3 separate regions of the Homo sapiens genome follow, and regions 2 and 3 are each reported to be linked to region 1. Evidence: microRNA targets listed by miRTarBase, many of them from high-throughput screens and not tested one by one. Region 1 holds a microRNA gene; each other region holds the end of a gene's coding sequence.
What was found. The annotated mature microRNA hsa-miR-548ac reads CAAAAACCGGCAAUUACUUUUG and lies in region 1 at 2,305-2,326, opposite strand. An mRNA with a match to its seed (bases 2 to 7 or 8) in the 3' UTR can be bound and repressed. Matches are read on the target gene's strand: a 7mer-m8 pairs with bases 2 to 8, a 7mer-A1 pairs with bases 2 to 7 and ends in A, and an 8mer does both.

Region 1 (5,075 bases):
TGCAATCGTGGCTCACTGTAGCTTCAACCTCCTGGGCTCAAGTGATCCTTCTGCCTCAGCCTCCCAAGTAGCTAGAACTACAGTTGCATGCCACCACGCCCAGCTAATTTTTATATTTTTTGTAGAAACAAGGTCTCACTATGTTGCTCAGGCTGATCTCAAACTCGTGGGCTCAAGTGATCCTCCTCCCTGGGCCTTCTGAAGTGCTGAGATTACAAGCATGAGCCACCATGCCCAGCCAATGCCATACCTTAGAGACAAGCTAATCACTCTTCCGGGATTTGAAGGAAAGGGTTTTCTTGAGTTTGTTCTTAGAAATAAACAATGTAATTTTAAGATACTTCTCTCTCTCTCTCTAAAATATTTTAAGGCTCACACTGCCTGCAGATTTTAGCAGGTAAAGTAAAAGTTCATTTGACCAAAAAAAAAAAAAAAAGAAAGAAAAAAGAAAAATTCCCTTAAAAGTTTCAGTACCTGAATATATGAATATTGGTATTTCCCTCTGAATATAAGACATCATAATGGTGATTCATTTAAAGCCTCGTGCAAGCCCAGAGATAGCAGGGTCTTGGGGCATTTTTGCTCCCAAGTGAGCAGATGGATTTCTCATCTGGATATGGGTCACTGAGCACAGCCTTGTCCCTCTCACTTCTCTGCGTTTGGTCTTCACATCACGGCACATTTTCAGTTGATGCCTACTTGCAGTATCAGGATGTGTGGCAATCTGGGAAGCAACATCTCTATCTACACACCCATATATGCATTTATAGTATTGAGGAGCGGCCAATCTCCTAAAATGTCTAGGCTAGTAATTGTATCAAATAACCTGTCCTATTAAGGCCATAAATATTCTCATATTAGTCAGTCCCAATTTTGGGGGTAGAAAATGTGCTTACCAGGCATGGAGATAATAAAGAGGAGTAGCACTGTTTGTTTTAACTCAATCAAGTTTCATACAGTTGTGACTCTTGCCTAGCTCTTAGCAAGTCCAATCCAAGGAGCCCTAGGCCAGCTCAGCCTCAGTAATAATATTTAACAGTAGCAGCAGCACGAAGATTCACTGCAGGCTTACTATGTGACAAGCACTTGTTCCAAGAGCTGTTTGTGTATTAACTCATTTAATCCTCAACTCAACTCTGAGGTAGTTCTTATTATTCATTTATTTGTTCATCAAATGTTCATGGAGTCCTGCCTATGTGCCAGACACTGAAATAAGCAGGCAGGATATAGCAATGAACAAAACAGACAAAATCCCAGCCCTCTTGGAGTCTATTTTTCAGTGGAGGGAAGAACATAATAAATGAAAAAGTAAATATCTTTTATTTGGATGATGTTGGATGATGTTAAGTGCTATAGAGAAAAATAAAGCAGAGTGTGGGGGCTGAGGAGTACTGGTAAGGAAAGGAGTTGGATGGCATGGGGGGCAGTCATAAGTTGGCATCTGAGCAGAGTCCAGAAAAGCAGGGGAGCGAGCCTAAGAACATCTGGGGTGAGAGTGAGAAAGGAGTTATTTCTTGAGAACACGCCTATCAAAGTAAGGTGGTTTGCTCCGCTGGACACTTGGTTGATAGAGAAGGTCAAAGATTCCGAAGCACCAGGCTACAGATGAAGAAATGGACTGAGAGGGTCAGCTGACTGCATTCACTCAGCTAGCAAGGGGCAGAGCTGGTGTCCAGACACAGGCAGTCGGCCCCAGAGCCTGCACTGTTGGCCAGAACATCAGATGCCTTGGTTGGGGCCATTCCTCTTTTTTCCTGATCGATTCCACCCTTAGCCGGTCCCAGTTAGTGACTTCTCTTATTTCCTTAAGACAGAGATTTACTGATTTCAGCCACACCACCACCAGTTTCCCTGCCCTCATCTACTTCATACTGAAACTGCAGCCACCTGTCTCCCAACGGTTACAAACCCTCGGTCCCCAAGGCCAGAGCAAGGTTCCCGGACCTTGCTCTCAGCTGTCAATCTGCCTCCTCGATAAGTTCATCAAGAATTAAGATGTTGGTTCTCTAAATCAACTTCTTTCTGTACTTTCCTTCTAATATGATGCTAAAATAGTTTCCTTTTTAATTCTTGTTCTTGCACTTAACCTATTTCTTCTTTCTCAAGATGTTTCCCTTTAGACCTATGCAATCCATCAAAGTAGCTACCAGCTACAAGTGGCTAGTGAGAACCTGAAATATGGTTAGTTCAAATGGAGATGTGTTCTGAGTATCAAATACACACCAGAATCTGAAGACCTGGTATTAAAAAGTGGAACATAAAATCTCTTGTTAATATTTTTTTGTAGTAACTACTAGGTTAGTGCAAAAGTAATTGCCGGTTTTTGCCATTAAAAAAAAATAGCAAAAACCACAATAACTTTTGCACCAACCTAATACATGTCGAAATGAAAATATTATGGATATATTAGGTTAACTAAAATATATTATTAAAATTAATTTCACATGTTCCATATTATACTTCTATTTGAGAGCACTTCTTTAGCCTGTTGTTTCAAGACACTCACATCCCACCTTTCTCAAAGGCCACATTTGTCTTTGACTGTTCTCACCTTAGATAGGATACAGCTGAGATCCACAGTATGCTTTAGGGAATAAGGTTCTTACTAGATCGGTTAAGGCTGTGAGTGTTTTTAAATCTATTCTCCAAAGTCTGATTCAAGGTATTTCAATACAGTACTGATCATTTCACTAAAATTCCTTGAGAATCCTTGTTATTTTCTAGATACTCAGTTCATCGTTGGGAAACTCTATTGCAAGTAGTTTACAATGGCACAGCCTCATTAGTTTCTTATTAATCTGATTTTTTATTTTTTTCTGAATGTGTATGTTAAACTTCAATTTTCTTCTAATTTTTAACTGGCATAGGAAGAAAATGTTCAAGAAACTACAGACTGGTCAGCCCAGTGGAAATTCAGGCACTAATCTCAACAGACATTTTGGGGAACATTGTAAAGTAAGCAAAGTTCACTAGAACCTATAAAGTAACCAAAAAGCATTTTCCTTGGAGGCTGATGGGCAGGCACTGAAAGTTATCTCCAAAGAGGAACTGCTAAAATGTTTTCCCCTCCTTTTCTAGGGACAGTCTCTGTATCTTATAGTCACACTTTATATTCAAACCTGAACTTATCTGAGAAAAGAGAAACGGCTGCATCCTGGTTTCACTTACAACCCTGAGATGGAAGTTGAGATTTGTCATTGCAGAATTTAAGGGTCTGTGTCCTTAAGTAAAACCTTCTGGTCACCCCTCAAGTAAAGCTTCAAAAAAGCTTAGGCACTTGTGCAGAAACAGCATGAGAAGAAACCAAAAGGCAGAAAACTTACACATATAAGGGCTGATTTATGCAAAGTTTCTACTTTTAAACAGAGAAACCAATACCTACCCTCAAAGCCTGTATTTACTAAAGAAATGTTAGAGTGACAAGGAGGTCAATAAAATAAATTATTCAAATCTGGTTCTTAAAAAGAGGTTCTAAGACTATTTTAAAACTTCTGAAAGATGCCCATCAAAATTAAAACAAAAAAACATAGCAACGAATACAATGAGTGAAACTTGATTAGATCCGGGTTTTTTAACAAAAGACACTCTTGTGACAAGTGGGGAAATCTGAATACGGGTAAAAGTTAGGTGATGTTACAGGATTAGTGTTAATATTTATAGATGTTATGATGTTATTGAGATTATGCAAAAGTGTCTAGGAGTGAAATGTGGGTACCTAGAGAATGTAAATATAATAATGTTAATAATAAATATGTCAATAAATTGCCATTGTAAATTCTATGTCCCAAAGAAGCACCCCTCACCATTACAAATTATGATATTAAATACAATTTTGCATGACTGGTAATTGTGCTGACCTATATTTCCCATGTTTTAGCAGAATTTCATTGGACAATGTATACATGTTGGATATAAGAAATCAGTAGTACTCATCTTCAAAAAGTTGCTTAGTGGATCTCAGGCTAGGGATACAACAGAGCATATAAAGGAATAGGTTCTGATTCAGAGAGAATCAAAGTTCAAGTTCACTCTGCCACTTATTTGCTGTGTGAACTTGGACACATTACTGAACCTACCTAAGCTTTGTTCTCCTATTAAATGTTCCCTATGTAATAAAATCAGTGTGACAATTAAATAAAAACATCTCAAATCTGAAGCATAGCTCCTGGCACAGAGCAGGTACTTACCTCCTAGTGGCTATTATTACTTACACTCTGTTATAACACTGGGCCTAGTTTTCCTATAGGAACACACAACACTATTTTAACTTGGATTATCTTTGCTAAATAAAAAAACACAGACTGTCTAAGTCTCAACTCCAGCAAAGCACATGAACAAGTCTCACATAATAATGTGAGATAATTTCAAATGGAGAAATGCTGGACAAATACATTGTCATCTAATGTTCAGATTCAACAATCTTTACTATTAAAAAAAAACAGATCAATATAAGGAAAATTTTAAAAAATAATACATGACTTCTGCATACAAGGAACTTAAAATCTAGTTATGCAGATAGTTGGCAATAAAGGATCTGTAAAATGTCAACAACAGCAGAATAAGACAGACTCTGTTAATAATAAAATAGTTCCTACCTTTTTATTTTTTATTTTTTTGCTCTGTTACCCAGGCTGGAATGCAGTTGTGTCATCATGGCTCACTGCAGCCTCAAATTCCCAGACTCAAGCAATTGCCAGGCTCATCTCAGCCTCCTGAGTAGCTGGGACTACAGGCGTGCACCACCACACCTGGCTAACTTTTTGTAGAGATGGGGTGTATTAGTCCATTCTCGCACTGCTAATAATGACATACATGAGACTGGGTAATTTATCAAGGAAAGAGGCTCAATGGACTCACAGTTCCACATGGCCAGGGAAACCTCACAATCATGGCAGAAGGCAAAGGAGAAGCAAAGTCATGTCTTAATGGTGGCAGGCAAGAGAGAGCGTGTGCAGGGGAACTCCCCTTTATGAAACCATCAGATCTTGTGAGACTTATTCACTATCACAAGAACAGTATAGAGGAAACTGCCCTCATGATTCAATTATCTCCACCTGGCCCTGCCCTTGACACAC
Region 2 (5,075 bases), not on the chromosome of region 1:
GAAAATCAGAGACCTCCCTTTTTTTCTAAGAGTCTTCATTCCTTCCAATCCAACATGTTTAAAGGTGGGTATCAAACTCATAAAAGTAAGAATTTACTTATTACTGCAGTCAGTCCCATTCCTTCTGTCTCCAACCAGTTTTGATCCTTAAATGTTCACCGTTCTGTTCTTAATTCTATGGTCTTTCAAATTCTGATATATTGTCTTTCACTCTGGTCTTCAATGTAGTCAAAGTAAAATTTTAAGGGGAAAATAAGATGCGTGATCTTCTCACACACATTTTCATGAAGTTGATTCCAGTGTGAGAATTGGCAAGTGCAGGAAGGCAAAAGTCTCTTAAATCAGATGTTTCCAAAAAGTAACCATGGACATCCACTCCTACTCTACTCTCTTCCAAATAAGTTATTGTTTTCTGCTATGGAAATATAAATTATATTGTGATGAAATTACTCAGTTTTCTCTGTGCAAGGAGGCAGAAAGGATAGCTTAAGAATTATATTTGATTAGATCTCTAGTCATAAAGTAATTATAACAGTAATTCAGTCACTCTGTAATTTTACTAAAGGCAAGGAAAGCAGACTTTTGACTTGAGAAATATGTTTTATCTGTATTTTAATCAAAAATGACTTGTATACAACAATCTGCATTTAAAGAAAAACTTGATATGTTCACATTCATACCTAACAACATTAGAAATTATTATTTCTGAATTTTCATAACCCATGTAATTGTATATGAATGACATTAAAGGTTGCAAACTAAATACAATAGTGATGTAGCCTGCTCAACAAAGTTCTCATTCAGAATAAGAGACGTCTAGGTTGAATATATTCATTCAAGAAAAAAATCATTTTTATTGTCCTTGAAGGATTCTGATGTTAGAAACAATATTTTATATGATAGCAAACAGTTAGTAATAAATGAATTTAGTCCTTTTCAAAGCATCATTATTGAGCACTTCAGAAAATCTGAGTGTTGGGAGGAAAGAGCTTATTAACCTCAGTCCTTTTTTAGTGAGAAGATAACCATGCAGACATTATTTTATTGTACCATGTACTGTAACCATGCAGACATTATTTATTCACAGAATAAATAGAGGATAAAGGCAAATCTAAGATTTAAAAAATAATTTTCTGCCATGCCCTTTCCCTTCCTTCCCTTCTTCCTTCCCTCCCTCCTTCCCTCCCTCCTCCCTCCTTTCCTTCCTTCCTTCCTCCTCTCCTTCCTTTCATTTTTTTATGCCATCCTATAGCCAAAGAAATGTTTTATACCTTTTTGTTGCAAAGGAAACTAAAATAAACTTCATGATCCCATTAGAGTTAAAACAGTTGTGTTTTCTTTCTCATTCTCGGCAGCTGATTTATTTTCAGGGCTGATGTGTTTAGAGTGGGTTTGAATATATGGGAGGGTAATGAATGGTACTAAAAAAAGTCCATGTTTACACTTCTCCTTTTTATTATGTTTCTACACTAATGTGCATTTTGGTAATTAGACAATTATTCTATAGCCAACTGTATTTGTTAAATCCTAGTTTGGAGACTTAAGTAGTCTCTGAATGATTTTTGTGCTAACCTGTAGTTCCTCGCTGTTGTTCCAAAACTGTATCTTTGAACCAGAAAGGTATACAGTTTATTTAAAGGTATCATACTCACCATCTAACTCTGTTATGATTAGTTGTATGACATCTGTCAAATTCCCTAATATTTATAAGCTCAGTTTTCTCATTGGTAAAATGGAAATGTCAGTGTTTTTGGGGAGATTAAATGACATTGTGCATCAAGGCATTTATCATGGTGCGTATACAAAGAAAGGCCAAGTAAATGTTAGTTCTGCTTCTAAACCTAGTCTCCCCAATATATGCAAAATATCAGACGAAGTTTTATGATTACTTAAACTCATAAAAATAACTCCGGGATTCAAGAATATGGCTCTTTTAAAAATTACACCAGCATAAAATGTGACTATGTGTGTGATATTTTTAAATACATACATTCAGTCTGATGTAATCTATTAAATAATCTTGGAAAGTAGACACATATCCAACACTTGTATCATTGCTCAAAACTTTCTTAGACCTTATTAATGAAAAACTCTCCAGAAGCAAATTCTGAGCCATATAAAAAATCAGCATTATTGTTTTTATTTGACTGAAAATCAAGCCTATCTTTGAGGGGGCGAAGAAAGTCCAAATGAGATACTCTCTCTCATTTGAAAGAGCTTTGCAATTCATAAGAAACTATGTAGATATGAAATGTCACAGAATGGGAAGTGTTAATGGATAAGTATATCCTTACTGAGAATATTAACAATTTTGCCTTAGGCTTTTAAAGAAATTCTGAAAACCCCAGTGTTTTAAGCTCTAGTAACACCATTATTGCTTATATAGTCCCCAAAGTGCCCACCTGCAGATAACACCCATCTGAGCATGTAAAACTTAGTTTAAAAAAAAATAATCATTTCTTGTATTGACTTTACCACTCTGCTTTTGTCCATTTCTTGCCATATCTGAAATTATCTTCTGTCAATTAATTTTATCCATATATCTTAGACTGCTAAAGCATGCTCTTCAGTTTGTTTGTCTTTAGAATTAAATTCCTCTTAAGTTGGGTCTGAAATTTTGCCGTAGCAAGCCAATCATGACTTGGGCTGGAGGGCAGCAAATGAGTGCCTTAGTATCACTTTTTTCCAAGACTGATTTAAATGAAGAGCTGAGGTTGAAGTAAAAAATTTTCAAAATAGGGTTAAGTTTGTAATTTGTGGAGTGTGTCAAGGTGAGTGCAAATGAGTTATTAACTGAATGGATCAGGGAATGTTAGGTGTGGAATGGAAGCCTAGGAAAATGGCATCCACAACTGATGGGTAGAATAACACTTACGGTTCTGAGGCATGTTTGAATGGAGGGTAAAACCTGATTGGGCAGCTTAAAAATGTTGTGATTTAAACTAACCATCCTTAGATCATTTTGTTAATTGAGAACTTAAGCGAGAACAAGGTTTGATCATATATTGTTTCCTGACTAGCAGAAACGGATTTTACCTTATTAATGTTTGCATTTGGCTGTGTCTTGTTTACGTCTTTGTCAGAAGTCATTTCAAATTTTTTTTTGTTTTTTTTTATTTGAGGTCAGCAATTCCCTTTTCTATTCTGTGACTTTGTATTAATTATATTTTCTCTCTGTAGACTGGATGTGATACTTATTAATAAAAACTAACTTCTCTTTTCCTCAAGTATAGCCATATACATATCCTATTAGTGTCTATTGAGGCAACTTATCCCAACTGAGAAATTAGGGACTGTTGGTTTGCAGCTCCATTAATGAGCAAATAGGAAAGAGCTAAAGTGTTGCATATCATCTTTTCTGTACATGTCTGCAGATATTCATAGGAACCTTAGAAATGCAAAGGTAGCCAATTGTACAACATCAGGCTTTAAAAAGTAGTACATAATATTTTGAAAATGGGTGAAAATAGCATTTTTGCCAGAAGAAAATGACAAATATTCTTCAAATTTTTCCACCAAATAGTTAACAGCTTTATTGGAGATATTCCTAGAGCAAGCATGTGCTTCCCAACATAGCTAAATCTATGAGGCAAAGAGAGAGATGGGAGCAGAGGCACAATACCAAAGATGCATTTTGAATATAATGGAATACAAATCAGGTGTTAATAAAATACTCAGCTTTAAGGTTCATCAGTGGCTAAGTTACAGTGGGTCAAAATTATCAAGGTTCTTCAGTGAAATTATATGAAATGCTTCTCAAGAATCTACCCCATAACTTATAGACATTCAGACATTTCCTTCTACAGCTTGCAAAAATGGAAGAGTCTCTTGAATATGCATGCATACTACTTGCCATTGTATGTTTTGATTTATTTCATGATATTCTAATTTCAATACTTTAAGAAATACTGCATACTGTTTTCATTGTCTGGCAAATACACTTTCAAATGAAAACATTTTTAATTTAGAAAGGAAGGGGCTTGGAATTGATAATAAAATTACAGATACACTAAATTCTTCTTATTCAAAGTCACTTCTGTGCCCTTCACATCTTCAGATTTAATATATTAGAAGTTAAGAAGGTTTTCAGTTAGATTGAAAAAAGACATATTTTTAAAGTGTGTCATTTAAACGTTGAGTTTTAGGGACTTTATGAATATTTCAGCTTGGCTTCTGAGAAGTTAGTGTAACATATCTTTTCATAAATATAATTGTTACATTGAAAAAGGATCTCTTATTCCAGGCATATGCAGAGAGAGAAGAAATCGAGACTTCAGTAAGGTATGTCAGGACAGAAGAGTTCAGTTACCAAATCCCGGGAAGTAACATCACCACACTTATCAGAGTGAATGTCATAGATTCAGTCGCCACTGCACATCCTGCTCCTGTTGTGTCTAAAGTACTGCCAGTGTCTGTTTGATGGATTTGCTTTACATCACTGAAGTTCATATCATCTGGCATCCCTGTAGAGGCAAATAAGAAAGCACAGGTGATGCATGACCACTTCACCATAATACGTCTAGAACAACTCTTAAACTCAAAGTGTGGACAGCATTGTTTTTGGGGACCATTCTCTATGTTCACCTAACTCTAACATAATTAATATGACACAGGTATTTCTGTCCTACTTAGATTGGAGAGTTCAAGCTCTTGTGTGAAAATTCTCAAATATTATAAGAGCAAAGTGAAAAGATTTTTAGCTTTTTAAAATTTTTGGAACATTTCTCTGCCACTGGTAAGTAAGTGAAGACATTTAATTAATTAATATATCCTAGGTATGGGATTAGTTCTTGTTTCAGAGATTTATCACCTTCAGTAACTGAAAACTTTTCCCATGAAAATAAAACCAGTTGAGGGGATATAATTGAATAAAATATTTTTTAAAAGTAGAATTTCTACAGATCATATTTTACATTAGAATAAAGTAGGCCTAAGATCTTTTTCAAATTTATTTTCATTTTTACTTGACAAATTTTATAGATATTGATGGGGTACAATGTGATATTTTGACAAGTATACCAGGAGGAATGATAAAGTCAAGCTGGCTAGCATATCCATCACCTCACATCCTTAGC
Region 3 (5,075 bases), not on the chromosome of region 1:
TCTGGGGTGCCCAGCTGGAGCCCAGCAGTGTCCTGTGACCCCTCTGTCCCACCCAGATCTCTCAGCCCCAGTGAATGGCGAGGCCACATCACAGAAGGGGGAGAGCGCAGAGGACAAGGAGCACGAGGAGGGTCGGGACTCGGAGGAGGGGCCAAGGTGTGGCTCCTCTGAAGACCTGCACGAGTGAGTGTCCCGGGCCGTGGGGTTTGGACTCCTGAGCGGCAGCGGTGTGACGCGCACCCTGGGTCCGAGCCGCTCCTCCTGTGCCAGTCCCTCTGGGATGGGTCCCAGGGATGTCGTCCTTACTCGGGCCTCCCACCTTCACAGCTGACCCCAGGGCCCCGCTGGCTGGCACTTCCGGCGGCCCCTACAGAGAGGCAGCTCCAGGGCTTTGAGCTGCCTGCCCCTGGCCTCCTGGGAAGGTGGCTTCTTGCCGAGCCTCCAGGGTGGCCCAGGTAGGTAGGCCCCGAGCACGGGCACCCGGCTATCTGACGGTGCCTGTGCCCATCACTGTGGGCTGCTGTCTGGTACAAGGCTCAGTGGAGTCACTCACTTACCCAGCAGCTGCCTTGTGCTATGCCTGGCTGGCGCCAGCGTGGGGACCCTGGAGATGGTTGTGGTCTCTAGTGGCAGAAGACAGGCAGATAGGAGGGCGGCACTCGAGCCTCAGGTGCCACAACGGGGGTACACTCCTCGGTGCCCATCCCACCCAACCGCCCTACAGGCAGGGCAGGGGCGGGAGGGCATCCTCACACCGCCTTTGCTGTTCCCACCAGCAGCGTACGGGAGGGTCCCGACCTGGACAGGCCTGGGAGCGACCGGCAGGAGCGCGAGAGGGCACGGGGGGACTCGGAGGCCCTGGACGAGGAGAGCTGAGCCGCGGGCAGCCAGGCCCAGCCCCCGCCCGAGCTCAGGCTGCCCCTCTCCTTCCCCGGCTCGCAGGAGAGCAGAGCAGAGAACTGTGGGGAACGCTGTGCTGTTTGTATTTGTTCCCTTGGGTTTTTTTTTCCTGCCTAATTTCTGTGATTTCCAACCAACATGAAATGACTATAAATGGTTTTTTAATGAAAAAAGAAATCACTTTTATTGGCTTGGTTTTCTAGCATTGCTGGTGCAGTGGGGGCCTGAGCTGGGGCGCAGGCGGCAGTGTCACTGGGCCCGTTTGGGACTGGGTTGAGCCATCAGGCCACCGTGAGAAGCGACTAAAAGGCACTCTGGGCCCAGCCCAACCCTGAAAGGCCAGTGGCAGGAGAGCTGGGCGGGAGCAAGCTCTTCCCAGGAGACAAGAGGGACAAACCAGGGCATCTAAGCTGTGCTGCCTGCGCCCTGCCCCGCACCCACGAGGCTGGGGGGTTTGATGCTTCCTGCATCTGGCAGCCCAGGGTCCAGGCAGGTGAGCAGGTCCGATGTGGGGAGGACGAGGGTCCGCGAGGCTAGGCTGGGAGGGTGGAGACCAGGCCTTCCCTGAGAGCCGCTGCTAGCCGACAGTGGTCTCCAGCGTTCAGGGAGCATGGGCCTCAGGGGCCAGCCTCGACTCACCCCAGCTGTGTCACCCACACACCGTGTGACTTTGGACAGGTTCCCCTCCCACTCGGGGCTTCTCTTTCCTCCTCTGCATAAGGGGCTGTCACGTGGGCACGGTCCCAAGCAAGTCACCCCGTGCTCCGAAGTTGCTCATTCCACAGTGGCGTCTCGTGTTTGTCGTCCTGCCCAGCGTAGCCGAGTTGCCTCCGTCCCAGTAAGAATTAGGCTGTGGTGTGGCGGGAAGGGACTTCCTGAGCTGCGGCCCCATGCTTGGTTGGCTGGACGTGAGCTGCAGTCACTGTGCCTGATTTCTGCAAATGGCTGTGTCTGGCATCCTAGCCTCCGATGGCCATGGGTGTCGGGCTGAGGAGAAGGCTTGGGAAGGCTCCTGACCCGTCCCCTCTCACGGCCCGTCACCTGAGGCAGTCCTTGCCGTGCCAGCTTCCCCGGTTCAGAGCTGAGCTGAATGCCCCGGCCCCTCACGGCCCCTGGTGCACACGGTGACCCCTGGGGCCCCTCCACCCTTCCTCCCCCTGGGTCTGGGGTTCCTGGGCTCGTGTCCTAGGAGAGCATGGAAAGGGGACGACAAGGTTCTCTTACCGGGTGAGTGGGGATATGGCTTCCTGGGGAGGCCGGGCTGAACGGCTCCTCCCCGCTGGACTGAGCGCAGCCACGGCACGTCTCACACCCGACCTGAGCCTGCCAGCCTCCACGACCTGGGCTAGCCTGAGAGCACGGGGCCCGGCGGCCGGGTCCGCCACCACCAGTGTCTCTGATGCCTGCAGCCTCCCCAGCCCCGCTTCCTCTGCAGCCCGGCGCTTGGGTGGGCCTGAGGACCCAGGGGGAGTGTGCGGCGGAGGAAGGGCTGTGCCATAGGCACGCAGCCTCTGTGGCTGTTCCCAGCCCTGTCTGATCCCTCCATAGGGCACAGTTCCCTGCGGGGAAGTCCTTTGTCTGTGTTCTCCAGGGGCAGCTGCTGGGCCCAGCCTCCCCAGGGGCCTCAGAGCCCCAGGTGCCTGGGGCAGGCCTGTGGTGGGCAGCTGGAGGCAGCAGCAGCCTGTTTGCTTGTTTTTTGCACCCCCCACCCCCTGCAAACTGCTCAGTCTCAAGCCAGGCTGGTGCAAAGCCCCAGCTGTGGCTGCTGTGGCTCCTGGCAGCTTTGTCCCCACCGTGAGGCCACCCCGGGGGTCAGCAAAGGCAGTAGCAGCCTGCCTTGGGATGATGATGGCAGTGTCGCTTTTTCTAGTACTTTCTACTATGAGGGAATGTGGTTCTTAAGACCCTCAAGGTGTGTGTGCTAAGGCCGGAGACCCACTTTCAGCATGAGAACGGAGCTGCCCGGAGCCTGGGATGCCACAGCACTGCCTGCACCGCTGATAGCTGGGGGCCCGTGCTGCAGGACTGGAAGAGCCCTGCTAGATATAAAAGGGTTGCTAGCGGGGCAAACAGATGCCCTTCCAGGCTGGGCACGCTGCTTTTTCTCTTTCCTAATTGCAGTGCTTGCTTGGGGACTTCAAGGGAAGGCTCTTGGCTGGTGGTCTGAGTGACCCCAGGCTCCGAGAGGGGCAGGCAGCGCTGGGGAGGAGGTGGGAGATGCAGGCAGGCCCGGAGCAGGGCGTGGGGTGGCTCAGTTAAGAAGGTCACTGCCTCCGCAGCCCCTCGGCGCTCAGCCAGCTGCAGCCCCAAAGGTCTAGGGCTTTAGGGAACCGATCCAGGTTTGGGGGCGGGGAGAAAGTTCTGAGGCAGCTCCTCCCTGGACAGAGCAGGGCGACCCCGCGCCGGGCCTGCAGGCTCCTACAGCTACTGCCCGCCAGCGGGCAAGGCGAAGGGCCCTACCAGCCAGCTGAGCGGGGGATTGTGCTGTAGGCCCTCCAGCAGCTGCTCTAACCCCTGCCAAGCCTGGTGCACACCCTCGCGGCTCTGCACCAGCCGCTCTGCGGGCAGCTCCTCTACAGAGCCAGCTGAGGCCACGATGCCATAGAGCTCACAGAGGCTGTGCCGCGCCCGCCCCACTGGCTGCTGGAGCTCGGCGGGCAGGCCCTGGAGGCTGGAGACCAGGCCACTGTAGGCCGTGTGCAGCTGCCGGAGAAGGCCGCAGACCCTGGACAGAACCCCGGCATCCCGCTCCTGTGGGAGGAAGGCGCAAGGTGAGTGGAGACCCATGGGCGGGGTGGGGGGACCCTAGCCCTGTGCCAGACCCACCTCCTGGACAGCAGCGTCCTCCGCACTGGCACCTGAGCCCTGGTCCAGACGTGGCTGCCCTTCTGGAGCCTGCTGGGCCTTTTCAATCTGGAGAGAGAGTACAGTGGGGAAATGATGGCTTCTTGGCAAATGACCTTTCACAACCCCCACCTCCCCCTCCCCCAGGGACCTGGGCACATTCACAGTCCTGGGAGAAAGGCCACGAGTTCCAAGTCAGTTGTACCACAGTGGGCGTGTTGTCTTGCAGAAAGAGGCAATAGTTCAAACTTCCCCATGAGGTCATCAGGGAGTGCACGTAACACAGTGTCTGTGGGGTCGTGTCACTCCTCACCCCTAAACCTGTGGCTGCCCAGTACCCTTAAGATAAAACCCAGCTCCTCACCATGGCCTTGGTGGGCTGGCCCCTGGGACACCTCTGGCCTCATCTCCCATGGCACCCCACTGCTGTCTCCACTGAGGCCACACTGGCTCCATTCTGCCCTCCGGCCACTCCAGCAGGCTTCTGCCCCAGGGCCTTTGCACACACTGCCCACTCAGCCGGGAGCCTGCTTCCCGGGCCCTTCACAAGGTCCGCGTTCGGCCTCAGCTCCAGGTGACCCTTGGTGAGACCTTCCTGGCCCATGGTGTGGCAGCCCCAGTCCCTCCCGTCACATCTGCCCCTCTCCTCGGGAGCACAGCGTGCGGCTTTGGTGTTCATTGACTTGGTGTTTATCCGCCCCTGGCAGGGGAACACTCAGGACTCTGTCCTCGTTGTTGCTGTGTCCCCAGCACGTGGCACCCACGCCCCACCCTGTCCACAGGGCCCCATCTTCCTCATCATCTCAATGGCTGGTAGGGATGCGGCACGCCGTCAAAATATCGACTCCAGACTGCTGTCGCCCTCCCAGCCCTCGCCGCGCCAGTGCTGGAGACCTGAAGCCAGCTGCATATGCAGACGCGTCCCCTCGGTGCCCACCAGGCATCTCCCCTCACCCTGTCCAAGGCCAGGCTCCTAATATCCACTCTGCAACCCGCCCGGCCTCCCCTCAGCCCCCCTGCTCTCCTTGTCTGCTCAGGTTACAAGCCTCAGGGGTCTCTTGGGGTCTTCTCTCACCTCCCACATCGGACCCGGGCAGCTCTGACTTCGAAACACCCAGAGCCCAGCTACTTCTCACCACCACAGCGTGACTCCTGAGGCCCGGCAGCACTTGCCTGGGTTTACGTCCCACTGTCTCCTCTGGCCCTCGCCCCCACCCGGTGGCCTGACCTCCCCCATCAGAGTGATCCTTTTAAATGAAACCCACCTTGGATCAGGCCGCTCCTCTGCCCAGAGCCCTCCAGGGCTCCCAACTCCCTTGGGGTCGAAGCCC

Region 2: miRTarBase lists GPC5 as a target of hsa-miR-548ac. The part of its 3' UTR that is shown has no 7-base or 8-base seed match.
Region 3: miRTarBase lists HDGFL2 as a target of hsa-miR-548ac. Seed matches in the 3' UTR shown: 7mer-m8 at 998-1,004 and 7mer-m8 at 1,056-1,062.

The regions. Positions count from the first base shown.
Region 1 is chr1:116,557,734-116,562,808 of GRCh38, forward strand. MIR548AC (microRNA 548ac) reads right to left here and starts at 2,378; the gene lies at 2,291-2,378. The region is part of intron 1 of CD58 (CD58 molecule); the gene reads right to left. LOC105378925 (a long non-coding RNA gene) reads left to right here. Exons shown (of 3, transcript XR_947739.2): 3 at 1-3,454. RefSeq lists enhancers at 845-894, 1,946-2,185, 4,785-4,934.
Region 2 is chr13:92,865,670-92,870,744 of GRCh38, reverse strand. GPC5 (glypican 5) reads right to left here. Exons shown (of 8, transcript NM_004466.6): 8 at 3,508-4,463. The coding sequence ends at 4,306. Among named protein-coding and RNA genes, the nearest start is that of GPC5-AS1, 150 kb to the right of the region's middle.
Region 3 is chr19:4,501,135-4,506,209 of GRCh38, forward strand. It overlaps HDGFL2 (HDGF like 2), which reads left to right. Exons shown (of 16, transcript NM_001001520.3): 15 at 57-183; 16 at 777-1,073. The coding sequence ends at 876. It overlaps PLIN4 (perilipin 4), which reads right to left. Exons shown (of 8, transcript NM_001367868.2): 7 at 3,727-3,813; 8 at 1,058-3,651. The coding sequence ends at 3,325. Among named protein-coding and RNA genes, the nearest start is that of PLIN4, 15 kb to the right of the region's middle.